2 separate regions of the Homo sapiens genome follow, and region 1 is linked to region 2. The links come from fine-mapping of genetic effects on gene expression. A gene starts in region 2. The other region holds a variant in brackets. All regions are shown on one strand. Distances are from middle to middle. Region 1 overlaps PARP11 (poly(ADP-ribose) polymerase family member 11). Region 2 holds the start of PARP11 (poly(ADP-ribose) polymerase family member 11).

The links. PIP is the estimated chance that this variant, and not a neighbour inherited with it, causes the effect.
Region 1: its variant is fine-mapped to the expression of PARP11 in whole blood (TOPMed, PIP above 0.99).

Annotation. Positions count from the first base shown.
Region 1 is chr12:3,843,281-3,846,202 of GRCh38, reverse strand. All of the region lies in intron 1 of PARP11 (poly(ADP-ribose) polymerase family member 11), which reads left to right. It also overlaps the pseudogene OTUD4P1. Among named protein-coding and RNA genes, the nearest start is that of PARP11-AS1, 25 kb to the left of the region's middle. The variant A/G (reference allele first, on the strand shown) is at 1,451.
Region 2 is chr12:3,872,011-3,874,932 of GRCh38, reverse strand. PARP11 (poly(ADP-ribose) polymerase family member 11) reads left to right here and starts at 1,534. Exons shown (of 8, transcript NM_020367.6): 1 at 1,534-1,721. The coding sequence starts at 1,704. The region is part of intron 1 of PARP11-AS1 (PARP11 antisense RNA 1); the gene reads right to left. RefSeq lists enhancers at 45-564, 565-1,085 and a silencer at 1,757-1,866.

The DNA of each region.
Region 1 (2,922 bases), 29 kb after region 2:
TCAGATATGTTTGAAACACTTCTTAAGGCTACAAAACAGAACATAGAAAAATAAACAGGAATATATTCAACACTTACAAAAAGTGATATGATAAAGAATATAAAGTACTAGTTTCCTTTTAACACTTCAAAAGATACGTATATATACTTTTTTTACAAGTAACATCACAAATGATCACATCTTCACATGCTCTTAAAGTATTATTTGTACTCAGTGTAAGGCTATTATCGTTTTTCATACACAAAATTTTCAGCTCTGTAACACAATGCAATTTTTAATCCATTCAAGTAAGTTCAACCCCAAAGTTGCTGCTTCCCAGCATTAAGACATGCACCCACTCCTCTTCTAAGATTTTCTAAAACTTGTATTTCGGGGAGAAAGACCTCTTTTAAAAAATAATCCCAATTAGTGGGAGAGTAAATGGCTGACACTAGTAGCAAAACCTTAGTTATTTGAAAATAACATATTGGAAATGAGACATTATTAGGATTCTAAACAAAAACAATAGCATTTAGACATAAAGTAGGAAGCAAAACACAGTACACAGAAATAGTGTAGCCAAATACGTATTCTCTTCAGCTACACTAGAGTGGACCTTGCTTAGTATCCTTAAGTAAAAGACAAAACATTTACCTCATCTAAAAATGAAGGGTAAAACAAAAGAGGCCAAAATAAATATTGCTAGTTTCTAGGATGGCTGAATGTTTTCTAAACCAGAAATGGTTAGAAAGGAACTTTATTGCACCAAGTCAATCATAAGCAAGTTTGCAGTTCACAGGCATTTTAATTCAACCTTGAGTCACAAAGGAAACAACACACTGCAAGAATACAGTCTGCATTAAATAAGATATATCGGCATTGTGGTCTGGGAAACCTACTCTTGCCAGGACAAGGCAGGGTCTGAGCTTAGGTCTGCCATGAAAATGAATTTGTGGGTTATCAGTAAACAGTATGAGGACTACACAGATGCCAGCATCCTGCTGCCAAGGAGACATGGGGCAAGAGTTGAAGATTTATTTGAGAGGAAATGAAGAGACATACACAACACCAAAGGGAAAAGGGGGCTGGAATAAAGTTCAGCCAAAGCACCTAACACAAAAAACAGGTGAGCTTTGGTCAGTCTGTTCTTCAAAATATGTATGATCATAATATGGTGAAGTTTCATAATTTCCAACTCAAAAATGCAAATGATCCTCAGTTCTATACTTTTGCCTCTATTCTCTTATAAAGAAATATGTCAACATACAGTATGACATAAACAGTTAAAATGAAGGACAAAAGCTTGCTTAGCCTTAGTTTGACCTCAGCATAAGGCAAAATCCCGTGGACTAATTAATACATTTAAAAACAAACTTAAAGGATAAAAGCGAAACCAACCTTCATGCAAAGATTAATTTTAAAACTATCAAAAGTCAGTTCTTTTATTCCGGAGGTCACTGAGAAAAGTACC[A/G]TCTGCTAAAATTCTCTTTCAAGCACTTCTTCCATCATATCCTAGAGGTGAGATATGGGAAACAGAAAGCAAATCAGTGTTTCCTTCAGGAGCTATATATTCTGTTACTCAATTGAGGTAAGACAAAGTGACAATGAAGATATGAATAGTATTTCCTTCCAATTTTTAAACATTTTCAGAAGCTGAGATAAAACCCCAGTCAATAAAATGCAGCAACAACTTATTTTGGACTCCTGAGATCAAACACATTGAACTTTCAAATCTGGTGTTTCTATCAAAATGTGATTTTCATTAAAATCAGGTAAGCTAGTCCTACAAAAAAAAGCATAAGCTGAAAGTGGAGGACCCTCTATCTTCTCATTCCTTAACTGAGCCACCAGTGTTAAGAAAGAAATGGCTTAAGCGGTACCTTCAACAACTATTCTAGTTTAGAAGGTGACAACAAATTCCTTTCAATAGATTCTCTCAAAAAATGTTTTCCACACAACCATCCCAGTCTTTACAATTTTTTACCTAGCACCATCATAATAAAATGTTATCTTTCAAAGTGCTCTCTAAAATCCTGTTACATTATCTAAATGCTAATCACTACTCAAATCAGCAGTTACACGGACGTTAGGTAATTAAAACAGCACAGAGGTAAATAACCATTATTACAGTACAGTGGCGATTCACTGAGCCCAGCTGGCATCCAAACATTCCCATAGGTTATCAGAGAACCCAGAAAACTCATCTGTTTCAGTTTGTCAAATTCAAGTGAATTGTATTTTCTTAAGTAATTTGCTTTACAAAAAAAGAAAGTCACCGCATCTGGTTTTGGCTAGGTGTATTACACATGGTATGCAAAGAGAAATTACTACTATGTTATTTGCATAGCACTCAAACTTCCTGATCAGAAGATAATCTCAACATAATAAAAGAGTGGATTTTCACATTGGTATGTACAAATAAGGAATATAAGCTACAGTTATTTTTACAAAATAACACAGATGAATGAATACTGTGTTAATTCAGAGTTCAATCTCCAAATGAGGACAGAGTACAACATGCAAAGGGAACCTCTAGTGAATACTGCAAAGACTGGAAGAAAGCAGAATGGAAGATGTTACCTACCTAAGGGTAACAAGCTATAAAATACAAAGCAAAACCATTTTCTAGCAGCATCCTCTAGAAAAGAACTAGAAGTCACAATCATATTATCTTCTATACGATAGTTCCAGCCCTGACAAGGAGAACATGCAAGTGTAAAGTGAAAGTGATACATAACCAATGGTGCAAGGGGAAAAAAAATACACACACAGTAACTCTAGAAACCTGTCAAGCTAAAAATTTTTAACATTTCTTCTCACAAAATATTTAGAATCTGTCAGTGCATTAGTGTTAAAGTGGCATTTAGAAAACTTCTGCAGTTCTGACTGATGCAGATTATTTTCAAAATGCGTAGCATCTACATTTCTTTCGAGTAGGCACCA
Region 2 (2,922 bases):
AGAGGAGAATGTTCAGAAACAGATATATACGTGTATGTATACCTATGTATATGTATATGCAAATTTAGGTTGTAATTAACAGTGGCACTTCAAAGTAGTGAGGAAAGAATATTCACTAAATGACATGGGGGCAACTGGTCAACCATTTGGCAAAAATAATCTCTTAGTAAACTATTTTATTTCCAGGAATTAATTCCAAGAAGTAAATGGACAAATGTGAAGAAATGCCTGTTGAAGGATTTTTTTGGGATAGTGAAAAATAGAAAACCACTCAAACGTCTATTCAGTAGATTATTTCAAATGTGTGTGTCTATTTGTGTGTACGTAGTATACGCATAAGTTATGGAATGCCATGAGTCTACTTTAAAATATGGCCGGGTGCAAGATGGCTCACACCTGTAATCCCAGCACTTTGGGAGGCCAAGGCAGGTGGATCACCTGGGGTCAGGAGTTCGAGACTGGCCTGGCCAACATGGCGAAAACCTGTCTCTACTAAAAATACAAAAATTCGCGGGACGTGGTGGCGCACATCTGTAATCCCAGCTACTCAGGAGCCTGAGGCACGGGAATCGCTTGAACTCGGGAGGCGGAGGTTGCAGTGAGCCAAAATGGCGCCACTGCGCTCCAGCCTGGGCGACAGAGCGAGGTTCTGCCTAAATAAATAAATAAAATGATGAAACAGATTTAAACTTAATGGAATGGAAGGATAGCCACATAATCTTTAAAGTGAAAAAAAAATCAGGTTCTAAATCTATAGGTATTCTTTGATTACATTTTTTTCAATGTGTAGAGGCATAGAAAAGTCCAGAAGGATCTATAATGAGCTGTTTAATTTTCATTTCCTATGGGGTAGATCCTTTGTTGCATGGAAGATTATTTCACTCTGTTAGCTCTCTTTACATCAGTAGGAATACATCCTCATGGTTTTAAACATCTTGAGGGAGCTTTCCTGACACTCTACTCTAGGTAAATATGCTCGCATAGCACTCTCTATTCACCATATTACCTATAAATCATATTGCACTTTTTAACTTTTCTAAACTACTTTTTGCTTTCTTTTCTAGATTATAAAATCTTGAGGGCAGGGATAGTATGTAAAGGTTCCCTTGTGAGCAAATAACCGTCACTTATTGAACTCTGTGTGCCAAATACTGTGCTAAATGCTTTCAATAATCTCACTCATAGGGAGATATTACTACCATCTCCATTTTGAGGATGAAGATATTGAAAGATTATGAAGTTTCTCCCAAATGCCATTGCCAGGCCTGTGTGACTCTTGGTCGTTACACGGTGATCAATAAAAATTTGTTTCATAGGAAAGAAATACAGCCAGCCGTGGCTTTAAGATCACTGGGTGATACAGTTGGACCAGAAACCCTTTAAACTCCTTCGTCAGACACAGACTCGCAAGCCCCGCCCAGGACGACCGCCCGCGCGCGTATGGATAAGCGTGCAGGGGCGGGGCGAGCTTGTAGGAGTGGGGCGGAGACAGATCTGACTGGCCAACGTCGGGCGGAAGTCGGGAGGTTGGGTGGTCTGTAAACGCTGGCTTGTGACAGGGAGGGGGAGGAGGAAGGCCTTCGTAAAGGTTGCATCTCCGTCCCTTCGCTCCCGGGGACCCGCGGGAAAAAAAAAAATCCAACACCCAGGCCCCGCGGCTAGCCCCTTCCCACAGGCTCTCTCCGCTCGATTTTGTCACCGTTATGTGGGAAGCGAATCCAGTGAGTAGCCGGGCGGGACGGGGCGGGCCCAGGGGGCGGGGTTGATGAGAGAGGGGCGGGAGGGGGTCACCGGAACTGCTTCCCCGCGCTCGCTTCAGTCTGGGTGTTGAGTTCCGGGACCGGAGTTCCCGGGCCTTTTGGCTTCTGTAGTCTGTACCTTTTTAAGCAGTGGAAGTGCCTGGGTGGATTCTCCAATGCTTTATTGTTTTCTTGTTACAATTATTTATTTTACTTCCCGTGATGTTTCAGCCTCATCCCTTCACCATTTGTTGTTGTTGTTGTTTTTGAGACGGAGTCTCGCACTGTTGTCCAGGCTGGAGTGCAGTGGCGTGATCTCGGCCCACCGCAACCTCCGTCTCCCGGGTTAAAGCGATTGTCGTGCCTCAGCCTCCCGACTGCCTTCACTGTTTTTTGAAACTTTGTGTTTTGCTTTCTAATTGGAGTAACTGGCCTTGGAACCTGTAGTCAGTCATTTGCCTCAGGTTTACCTGCCAGTCCCACCAGTCTAAAGCAAGGGAATTGGGACCCCCTTGTCTTGAATGGGCCTAAGAGGAGCCATCAGTTCTCCTTTTCCCTTCTTGGTGGACAGTCGTTTAAAACTTGGAGTATGGACTGTATGTTCTTAGATGTTTTCGTTCGGTGGACAAAGTGATCTGGAGCATTTCAACTGCAAGTCTGCCTTCTTCCTTGGCTGACTCTGGTATTTTCATTATGACTTCATGTGTCTTTGTCTACTTTGCTTTTATACATTTATTTATTTAAAGTGCAACGTAGGGGCCGAAAACTTTAGTACCTTTCCTCACCACCCATTGTAAGGATCACAGCCACCACTCCTTAAAACAGAAGATAGGTTAACAAGGTAAAAGCAGAGCAAATCTAATCAAAGTTTTACACCACCAGGCACTTCAGAGACCAGGGAGATCTCTATTTTTATGCGTAGGACCCATGAAGAATAGACAACTGTGTAAAAATGTGACTGGACAAAGGATATACTCTAATGTTAATAAACTGAGGAAGGAAGCCCAGCAAGGTCTGTTTGTTCAGATTCTTCTTGGCCTCTCTGTGTATCATTTCTTCCTCCTACGGAGGAGGAAGGTCCCTTCTGGAATGAGGGTCTTAGCGACCTACTATCAGGCAAGGTAGATTAGAGAATTTCTTTATGGCCAGTTCCTATAGACAATGGCAGGGAAAGCTTAATAGT